Homo sapiens: one gene and its partners. The protein of the gene in region 1 purifies or fractionates together with the protein of each later gene. This does not show direct contact. Each region holds a gene or a part of one and is shown in the gene's direction. Other genes may lie near its edges. The genes, in order: SLC39A11, FAM174A and PON2.

Region 1 (3,753 bases):
CCTTGGTGGGCGGTGGTGTAACTTCAGCTTCAGCAGCAGGGTGCTGAGTTGACCAGGGGACATTCCATTCCTGGGTCCTTTTGCTTGTCCTTGCTGACTGTCCTGTGCAGGTAAGCTGGCCCTTTTCCATCCAGCACATATTTTTCAGGGGTTACAAAGCCCTATTTTACAGGGGTGCCAAATGTGAAAAAGCACCGTCCCCGTCCTCAAGCAACTAAGGCTGTAAAAGATGGAGGCAAAGCCACACTGAGAGAGGACCAAAGCTGCATGCTAGGACAGGGCTGGGGAAGGCCAGAAAAGCCTTGGTCGTGAGGTTGGCATTATGTGGGCTGCAGAGGGTGCTCCGGGTTCTGATGGCTGGAAATGTGCAAGGAAGGTATTCCAGGAGGGAACTGCATGAACAGGGACTTGGAGGCAGGATTGTCTGGGGCTTGTGGAAGGTGCCATAAATAATTCAGTTGAGCTGGAGTTGGGTGCTCGTGCAGGCATGATGGAGAACGGGATTGGAGAGTCGGGGGTTGGTGGGTATCAAAAGTTGGTTGGTGGAGTTTACCCTTTGGCTGGGCAGGTGCGCTGTTGCAGATGTGATGGGGATTAAGATTGGAAGCGTGTTGACATCACCTGAGCTAGTCACCTGTCTTTGGTGGAGGCTGAGTGCGGATGGTGGGCAAGAGACGGTAGAAGAGGCAGATTATGTGGGGGAGGCTGCATCAGACCCTCCTATGCCCCCTTCTTCTGGAATAAACCACATTCTTTGTGCTTCTCTTTGAAACCACTTTTCAATGTTGCAGCCTTTTTTGTGGATTCCCCTGGCATCTCCCTGTGCCTTCTTTCAGATTAAGACGATTTCCAGTTCCTGGGGGACCTGGATAGAGAAGCCTGACCTGTGTGCTGGGTGGCTGAGGGACACAGATGGCGTGGTGGAAGGGTGCATACGGTCAACCTGGAGGGAGGCCAGCTCCCACACAGGGTGTTAGGACCCGTCAGAATATGCGCCTGTCACTGAAACGGACCACCGGTGGCTGACCCTCTCGCTCCTCTTGCACAGCTGTATCCAGCATGCTCCAAGGCCACAGCTCTGTGTTCCAGGCCTTGCTGGGGACCTTCTTCACCTGGGGGATGACAGCAGCTGGGGCAGCTCTCGTGTTCGTATTCTCTAGTGGACAGGTGAGTTGCCTTGCTTTGGTTCTGGATGTTGGTGGGGAGCCCGTTGGTAAAGGGGCACTGTCCCACTCCATGGAGCAGGTTTGTAGACTTTTCAGTGCCCCTGGCCACACCCCCAGGCATTGTGTACTGGGGTTTGTTCGCTGTCTTCTTATTTTCTCACCTTCTCCCTGCCAGGCCGGGAGAACAGATGTCTGCTTGCTGTAGACACCTTCATGCACCATCATCTCCCCTCTTGACCCTTGACAGCCTGACTTGAAGGGAATAGGAAGTGAGAAGCCCAGTTATTGAGGCTTCGTTAGCCCGCTGCCTAATTTCTACCTGCCATGTAATTTCTTTTCTTTTTTCTTTTTTCTTTTTTTTTTTGAGACAGAATCTTGCTCTGTTGCCCAGCCTGGCGTGCAGTGGCAGGATCTCAGCTCTCTGCAACCTCCACCTCCCGGGTTCAAGTGATTCTCCTGCCTCAGCCTCCAGAGTAGCTGGGATTACAGGCATGTGCCACCACGCCTGGCTAATTTTTGTATTTTTAGTAGAGGTGGGATTTCACCACTGGTCTCAAACTCCTGACCTCAGATGATCCACCCACCTCGGCCTCCCACAGTGCTGGGATTGCAGGTGTGAGCCACCGTGCCTGGCCTGCCATGTAATTTCTTTCAGGCCTGGAGCAAGTGGTACTATGCGTGACCGAAGAACATTAGATTTCAGGTGTAACTGTCCTCCCCTGTGGACTTGAGTTGGGTGGGATGGTTGGAAAGACCTTGGGAGAAGAAGGGGCATCTGTTCCCTTTTTTTTCAACCCATCTCCAGGTTGTTTCCTTTCCCCTTGGGATGAATATAGACAGACCCATGTCCCTGGCCCCCTGCAAACTCTTACTTCTTTCTCCTACATCTTCCTTGTATCCTACTCCCAGTGCCCTCACTCACTGTCATGGCCCCACAGCCTATCTCTCCCTCCTCCCACAACCCCATCCTTACACCCCTTCTACACGCTCTACCTATAGTCCCACATACCCACACTTGCACACATACCCATACCCATATGCCCTCCCCACACCTCTGCACAACCCACACTCACCTCATATACCTGAAATTGCATTCTTTTCTCCAACCCAGATCACCCTCAGTCCGCAGCCCTGGAGCCATCCATGGGTATCTTGATGAATGCACAATCCCTGCATCGATCACCTCGGTAGCCTGAGACATTGTAGAAACGGCAAATGAATAAGTGACTTAAGATCTAGTTCAACATGTTGTGAGGGAGATCTGGAAATGAAAACACCTTTAGGAAGTTCACAAGTCAGGCACTCTTGTGTTAGAGACCAGTACAGCAGGCCTTGATTTCAACAATAAAATCCCGACCTCCCTTGCTGCGCTGCACTGCCCCCGGGAGCTGATGGGTTGGAGACTGGAAATCAGAAAACACACAATCCAGAAACATGGTTTATCTGGAACCTAGGTATATAAGATGCCAAGATAAGTCAAATTCACAGAGACACATTGTAGAATGGTGATTGCCAGGGGCCACAGAGGAGGGCAGAAATAAGTTATTCTTGAATGAGTACAGAGTTTCAGGGTTTTTTGTTTTTGTTTGTTTTTTTTTTCTTTAGACAGAGTCTTGCTCTGTCACCCAGGCTGGAGTGCAGTGGCGTGATCTTGGTTCACTGCAACCTCTGCTTCCCAGGTTCAAAAGGTTCTTCTGCCTCAGCCTCCCGAGTAGCTGGGATTACATGCATACACCACCACGCTCAGCTAATTTTTTTTGTAGTTTTAGTAGAGACGGGGTTTCGCTGGTAACCCCATCCGGCCAGGCTGTTTTATTTATTTATTTTTTATTTTTTTTGAGCTAGAGTCTTGCCCTGTCACCCAGGCTGGGGTTCAGTGGCATGATCTCAGCTCACTGCAACCTCCACCTCCTGGGTTCAAGTGATCGTCCCACCTCAGCCTCCCAAGTAGCTGAGACTACGGGTGTGCACCACCATGCCCAGCTAATTTTTGTATTTGTAGTGGAGATGGGGTTTCACTATGTTGCTCAGGCAGGTTTTGAGCTCCTGACCTCAAGTGATCTGCCTGCCTCGGCCTCCCAGACTGCTGGGATTACAGGTGTGCACCATCATGCCCAGCTGAGTTTTAATTTTGTAAGGTGAAAAGTTCTGTAGACCACATGGCTTCTTTCACTTCAAAGAATGTCCATAGAGCTCATCCACGTTATAACATGTGCCAGAATTTCTTTTGTTTTTAAGGCTGAAGACTATTCCATTGTATGTACATACCACATTTTGTTTATCCATTCATCTATGGATAGATAGCAAAAAAAAAAAAATCTGTATTGAAATAGAAGATGCTTATGGAAAAATGCACATTTTATTAGGCTGGTGCATTTTATTAGGTTTGCACCAACCTAATATAAGTATGCAGCTTGATAACTTTCCACAAGTGCTCATGAAACTAGAGCCCAGATCAAGAAACAAAACAGTACCAGCTCCTCACCTCACAGCCCCTTCCAATCAGGAGCCTTCAGTCTCCCTTCCAATCTCACCATCCCCAACCTTTACTCCAAGGGTCATCTCCCATGTGATCTCTAACAGCACG
Region 2 (3,753 bases), on another chromosome or scaffold:
GTTGAAAATTCTTTTCTTTAAGAATGTTGAATATTGGCCCCCACTATCTTCTGGCTTGTAGAGTTTCTGCCAAGAGATCAGCTGTTAGTCTGATGGGCTTCCCTTTGTGGGTAACCCGACCGTTTTCTCTGGCTGTGCTTAACATTTTTTCCTTCATTTCAACTTTGGTGAATCTGGCAGTTATGTGTCTTGGAGTTGCTCTTCTCGAGGAGTATCTTTGTGGCGTTCTCTGTATTTCCTGAATTTGAATGTTGGCCTGCCTTGCTAGAACTTCCCTATCCAGGGAAGTTCTCCTGGATAATATCCTGCAGAGTATTTTCCAACTTGGTTCCATCCTCCCCATCACTTTCAGGTACACCAATCAGACGTAGAGTTGGTCTTTTCACATAGTCCCATATTTCTTGGAGGCTTTGTTCGTTTCTTTTTATTCTTTTTTCTCTAAAATTCTCTTGTCACTTCATGTCATTCATTTGATCTTCCATCACTGATACCCTTTCTTCCAGTTGTTCGCATTGGCTACTGAGGCTTGTGCATTCGTCATGTAGTTCTCTTGCCATGGTTTTCAGCTTCATCAGGTCCTTTAAGGACTTCTTTGCATTGGTTATTCTAGTTAGCCATTTGTCTAATTTTTTTTCAAGGTTTTTAACTTCTTTGCCATGGGTTCGAACTTCCTCCTTTAGCTCGGAGTAGTTTGATCGTCTGAAGCCTTCTTCTCTCAACTCGTCAAAGTCATTCTCCTTCCAGCTTTGTTCCGTTGCTGGTGAGGAGCTGCGTTCCTTTGGAGGAGGAGAGGCACTCTGATTTTTAGAGTTTCCAGTTTTTCTGCTCTGTTTTTTCCCCATCTTTGTGGTTTTATCTACCTTTGGTCTTTGATGATGGTGACGTACAGATGGGGTTTTGGTGTGGATGTCCTTTCTGTTTGTTAGCTTTCTTTCTAACAGTCAGGACCCTCAGCTGCAGGTCTATTGGAGTTTGCTGGAGGTCCACTCCAGACCCTGTTTGCCTGGGTTTTTTATAGAGAAAGTTTAGACCTCTGGTCTACATGGTGTGTGTGGGTGTGTTTGCACACATACACACACATATACATGTTAATGTAACAACCTAAACATACTTAATTTCTCACTGTGAAAGAAAGAGTACTTTGTATTTCATACTGCTTCATTTTTGCTAGTACTAATATTTACTGACCCTTTCATTGGTTACATTTGTAACTTTAAATGCTATGCTTAACTCTCTGTTTCCTGTTCCATCACTTTAGACGTGTATATAGATAGCTCTATAGGTAATGACTGGTGGAAATTTTCTTTGTTTGTACTCACACTTAGTAACATTTTGTAAATTTTAACACTGAGACCAGGCACTTTACACCCAGGTGCTAATATCATACCTGATGCTTAATAAGACTCAATTATTTGTTGAAGGTATGTTTGTTTTCCAGGAGCTTCACTGTCATGTTTGAGGAGTCTCATGTTGCTCTTTACAGTTGATGTTATAGCCCAAGTATTTCTTATCCCACATATGTCAAACAGAGTAAATCAGAATTTATGTAAACTGATTTTATTTGTGATAACTTGCTGAAATATTTTCTATTTATTTTCAAACTCCAGTGGACACTCTTGTGAAACACATTTTGCTGTCTGTGGAGTTGAAGTTGTTGCATTGGAGATGACTTAGGCATTCCTTGCAGGGTCACAGTTTTGGTCGCCAAAGTAGAAGTCACTCAGACCCTCAACAATTAATTGAAGAACATCTTAATTGATACATCACTGTGCTAGGAAGTGGTTATGTAGTGGTGAATAAAGCAGTCTTGGTTGCTGCCCTCAGAGAACTTAGTGGGAGAGACAGATGAATAAACCCCACATAAACATATACATCAGCACATAGGAATGCAAATTAAGGTAAATGATTTGAAGGAAAAGAACAAGTTATTTGAGACACAAACTGGAAGTAGGACTCTAAATCTTGAGATTTCATTCATATGGCTAATAATGAATGTTAAGCACCCTTGAATCTTTTGAATTTCTCTAAGCCAGTGGTTCTCAAACTTGAATATGCATCAAAAGCATAAGAAATGTTTGTTAAAAGACAGGTTTCTGGGCCCCATCTTCAAAGTTTGTTATTCACTAGGTCTGGGCTAGCCATGAAGATTTGCATTTCTCGTAACTTCCTAGGTGACTGTGATTCTGCTGATCCAGAGAACCACACTGCAAGAACCACTGATCTCAGATAATGGTTTATATCACATTGGAATCACATTTAGAACCTCAACAAAATATTCATATTTAGTTCTTTTTTGCTGTACATTTTGATTCAGTTATGTCCTAAACATGGGACTTTAAAAAATACTCCCAGGTAATTCTAGTGTGCAGCTAGAGTTGTGGGCTATCAGTTTAGTCTGTGAATATGCATATACATACAGTTTCTTAGAGGGGCATCTAAACAGTGGTAAGAAAGCGGGGAGGACATGGGGAAAAGGCTGGAGCAGGAGGTTTCAGTAAAGAAGTACCTGACCTAAGCCTTTAAAAATTAAGGTTTAAAGTACGGTACCTGAATTTAAGGCTTAAAAGTTATTTGTCAACACCATCAGTTGACACAGAGAGAAGAGAGTATGTCAGACAGAAGAAACAGGCGATGGCACATAAACATGTAGGAGTAGGTTTTGTTTCATGAAGTTTAATCCTAGGTGGTAAATTTGTTGCATATCTGAAATGTAACCATTCTGATATTGTTTGCTATGTCAGAAACAGAATAATAATTTATTTTATAAATAAATATAAACTATGCCATATTAAATAATTTTTATTCATTAATTTGTTCTATTTGATAGGATGAGAAGAAGAAACCGAAAGACTAGGAGATATGGAGTTTTGGACACTAACATAGAAAATATGGAATTGACACCTTTAGAACAGGATGATGAGGATGATGACAACACGTTGTTTGATGCCAATCATCCTCGAAGGTAAGTATTCCAGTAGTTTAATTCCATGAATCAGGAAGCAAGTCCTTGCCAAGTAAACTGAAGAAGTAAAGTAGACTTTCATTTAACAGCTTATATTCCAACACAGTTTCTTCAGTTCTGTTTACTGAAGTTCTTTTTGCTATCTACCCCATAGCTCACATTCACGTTGTTTTGCTCAAATAGATACAAACAATAGAATACCATCTCAAAATATTTTTTTTAATTTATTCTTCTGTTTTTATCTTTTATTTTAAGTTCAGGGGTACAAGTGCAGGGTCGTTACATAGGTAAACTTGTGTCATGTGGTTTTGTCGTACAGATTATTTCATCACCCAGTTATTAAGCCTAGGACCCATTAACTTCTTCATTCTTGCAATATGTATTAACTTGGGTGTGTGTGTGCATGTGTGTTTGTGTGCGTGTGTGTTTGTGTGTGTGTGTGTGAGAGAGAAATACTTATTAAATTTAATTTCCTTTTTGTATTCTGAAGATATTTTCTTTTTAGTTTGGGTTCTAGTGTTTGTAAATAGTGCTGCCTTGCAGAATTGGGGGACTAATTGTTTATGGTCTGATCATGTAGCTGTAATATATATACTGAGATCTATTCTCAGTAAGTGTTAAGACCTTTCCTAAGAGGTTTAGATAAATAAAATGACATGAGTATAGAATAAATGCCAATGTAAATAGAATGGGGAAAAAAGCCAACAAAGATTCAACCTAATAAGGAAAGACATCTTGGAATCCAGAGGGATTACTTGGGTGAAGGAGAATTAGAGTCCAGAGTCAGGTAC
Region 3 (3,753 bases), on another chromosome or scaffold:
ACCTTTTCTTTACGTGACTGTGATGCACTTTAATGGGCAGTGACTTTATAAAATGGTAACTTTATTGGATATGTGGAGCCCCAAATGGGCTGACGTGAGAATGTTGGGGTAGGTGGTGGGTGGCTGGATTTAGCAAAGAAAAATGTAGGCTACCCAGTTAACTTTGAATTTCACATGGATTTTTTTTTTTTTTTTTAGTATAAGCATGAAATACTTATACCATACTTTTAGCATTAAGCGTGGAATTTGGGACATAATTATACTAAAATATCATTCATTGTTTATCTCAAATTAAAATATCACTGGGTACCCTGTATTTTATCATATGTTCGAGTGCCTTCTGTCAGAATTTGGTGACCCTTTGAGTCTGTTTTAAAAAGGAGCATGTTTGGCCGGACACAGTGGCTCACGTCTGTAATCCCAGCACTTTGGGAGGCTGAGGCGGGCAGATCACTAGAGGTCAGGGGTTCAAGACCAGCCTGGCCAACATGGTGAAACCCCGTCTCTAATAAAAATACAAAAATTAGCCAGGTGTGGTGGTGCATCCCTGTAATCCCAGCTACTTGGGAGGCTGAGTCAGGAGAATTGCTTGAACCCCAGAGGTAGAGGTTGCAGTGAGCCAAGATTGAGCCACTGGACTCCAGCCTGGACAACAGAGAAAGACTCCCTCAAAAAAAAAAGAAAAAAAGCATGTTCCCACCTCCCCATAAGGAAAGGCTCTTCAGAGGAAGTTGAAGGAACAGAGGCTTTATGTTTGATTTTTGCTTTAATCTGATGCCTACTGTTTGATTATTCAATATTTAGAGATGGTACTTTGGCAATCAAGTTATTTCTCTCCCCAGGTTGCCCACTTCAATTTTTAGTATAAGGATGTCCCAGAGGGATAAATGCCATCAAAGTTGTCTTTCTTCTTCTGAACTGTAACTGGGATTCCACACCCTCCTTTTCCACCCCTCCCTAGTTGAGCAATAAAGGGGAAAATAACAGTATACAAATATTCCCAGGCCAGTTCCTGGTGTCAAGGTACACAGCCATGGATGAATCATGAGGCTTGAGTGCATCAGAGACCTAAGCGTGGGCAGGAACCCCCAGAGTACCCATGTGAATGTTCTGCTTGCTGCCTCGCACCTTTTATGACAATTCCCACAAGAAGCTATGTGGTCTGTTTCTACTTCTGAAAGAGCAGCCTTTTTCCCTTTTTTTTTTTTTTAAACCACCATCCTTTAAATCATTTATTATGTAACTCTTGTGTGCTGGTCAGTCAGTGTGTCAAAAGTGTAAAAACTTCTTTATTTATTTTTTTAATCTATCTTTTAAAAAATATTTTCTTTCTTTTTTTCTTTTTTCTTCAAGGCAGGTTCTTGCTCTGTCACCCAGGCTGGAGTGCAGCAGCACAATCATAGCTCATTGTAACCCAGAACACCTGGGCTCAAGCAATCCTCCCACCTCAGCCTCCTAAGCAGTGAGGACTATAGGCATGCACCACTACACCTGGCTAATTAAAAAAACATGGCCGGGCACGGTGGCTCATTACTATAATCCCAGCACTTTGGGAGGCTGAGGCGGGTGGATACCTGAGGTCGGGAGTTCAAGACCAGCCTGACCAACATGGTGAAACCCCATCTCTACTAAAAATACAAAATTAGCCAGGCACGGTGGCACATGCCTGTAATCCCAGCTACTCAGGAGGCTGAGGCAGGAGAATCACTTGAACCCGGGAGGCGGAGGTTGCAGTGAGCCATTGCACTCCAGCCTGGCAACAGAGCGAGACTCTGTCTCAAAAAAAAAAAAACAAAAAAATTTTTTTGTAGAGATGGGGGTCTTGCTGTGTTGCCCAGGCTGATCTCAAACTTCTAGCCATAAGTGATCCTACCGCATCAACTTCCCAAAGCACTGGGATTATGGGTATGAGCTACTGAGCCCTGCCAAATTTCTTTATATTAAACCAAAACGTACATTTACTGATATTTGGAAAGAAAGCTCTTTTACTTTTATGCCTTCATCCAGTCTTCATAGATATCTTCCCTTTTACATTATAACTGTAAATACTGAGGTTAGAGAGGTTAACTAGTTAGTTCAACAGAATAATATAAATATTGAATAATATAATTAATGAATAATTAGTGCTGAACCTGTCGCCTCAGCCAGGTCTCCTGATTCCAAATACAGTTTGCCCCAGCTCCCCACAGTCTTCTAGCTTCTCTGCCAGTGGAGCAAATTTTCCCTAGGTTTACAGGCCTAAGCACAGATTCTTAGTTACTTAGTGCAAGTATTGCCAGAGCCCAAGGGGTGAATTCCAAAGGGTTTTTACAAGGCTATACATAAAAGATAAAGCCCTGGCTTGTATATCACTTGCACATAGGAGATAAAGCCCCAGCAGTTGTATGTAAATTTCAAAAGCAGAGAAGTATGGCACAAAGAAACTCCTGATAGTAACACTGTGTTCCCACTTTGCTTAGGGGCATATTGGCACCGTAGCATGGTACACCCTTACTGCTACCTGCCATGAGGCCAGATAATAGCTAGCAGCCCCTGGTCTCATTCTACTCTGGATGGGTACTGCTGTTTCCTGAATGAAAGACACTGAGATTGATTTCATGCTAATGACTGTTGGTTAAGAGTTCATGCTTTCTATTCACAATAGCAAAGACTTGGAACCAACCCAAATGTCCGTCAATGATAGACTGGATTAAGAAAACGTGGCACATATACACCATGGAATACTATGCAGCCATAAAAAAGGATGAGTTCATGTCCTTTGTAGGGACATGGATGAAGCTGGAAACCGTCATTCTTAGCAAACTATTGGAAGGACAGAAAACCAAACACCACATGTTCTCACTTATAGGTGGGAATTGAACAATGAGAACACTTGGATACAGGAAGGGGAACATCACACACCGGGGCCTCTTGTGGGGTAGGGGGAGGGGGGAGGGATAGCATTAGGAGATATACCTAATGTAAATGACGAGTTAATGGGTGCAGCAGACCAACATGGCACATGTATACATATGTAACAAACCTGCACGTTGTGCACATGTACCCTAGAACTTAAAGTATAAAAAAAAAAAAAAGTTCATGCTTTGTGGACAGGTAGCCTGAGTTCATTCATAGCTCTACTATTTACCTGAAACCTTGGACTAATTATTTCACTTTTCTGTGCCCCAGTGTTGTAATCTGTAGGATGGGGTACTGCCTGCTCCACAGTGGGACTATGAGAATGCTTAAAATAATGCCAAGCGCACAGTCAGCTCAATAAATGTCATCTATGTAGACAATGAAATTCAAGCATAATTCCTTAAACCTTTGTGCCATACATCCCTTTGGCAGTCTGGTAAAGCCTTCATTCCTTCTCAGCATCATGTTTTTAAATGAGTAAAATAAAATATATAGGATTACACAGGAAACCAATTAAATACTGCTACCAAGCTATTTAAAAATCTATGATATAATATGCTTTTTAAATTAAACCCTTAAATGGATCTAGAGGTAGGTAAATGTCTAACAGCAGATATTTTGAAGTTGCAATGAATGTAAATGGCACTTTGAGCTATCTACAACTGAAATGCGATAGAAAAGTATCTATAATTTCTATTAGTGACAGTCACAAATACTACTAATAGTATTGTGGTTTGTTGCTTATACTCATCATCAAAGGAAATACTCAATTTGAGTTAAAGGTTTAAATAAAGATGTATTTTTCCCCCATCCAAGTTCATGGATCCCTGAATTCTACCCATGGATTCCTTGGTC

What was found.
Region 2: the proteins of SLC39A11 (region 1) and FAM174A purify together in Homo sapiens (co-immunoprecipitation; 4 studies listed by BioGRID and IntAct, with this or other methods). This does not show direct contact.
Region 3: the proteins of SLC39A11 (region 1) and PON2 purify together in Homo sapiens (affinity purification with mass spectrometry; 4 studies listed by BioGRID and IntAct, with this or other methods). This does not show direct contact.

What each region holds. Positions count from the first base shown.
Region 1 is NC_000017.11:73,086,071-73,089,823, reverse strand, and holds part of SLC39A11 (zinc transporter ZIP11), read left to right. Parts: exon of another isoform or gene 1-110; intron 111-1,048; 5' UTR 1,049-1,059; coding exon 1,060-1,167; intron 1,168-3,753. UniProt on the Homo sapiens protein: Zinc importer that regulates cytosolic zinc concentrations either via zinc influx from the extracellular compartment or efflux from intracellular organelles such as Golgi apparatus. May transport copper ions as well.
Region 2 is NC_000005.10:100,559,227-100,562,979, forward strand, and holds part of FAM174A (membrane protein FAM174A precursor), read left to right. Parts: intron 1-2,827; coding exon 2,828-2,962; intron 2,963-3,753.
Region 3 is NC_000007.14:95,428,357-95,432,109, reverse strand, and holds part of PON2 (serum paraoxonase/arylesterase 2), read left to right. Parts: intron 1-3,753. UniProt on the Homo sapiens protein: Capable of hydrolyzing lactones and a number of aromatic carboxylic acid esters. Has antioxidant activity. Is not associated with high density lipoprotein.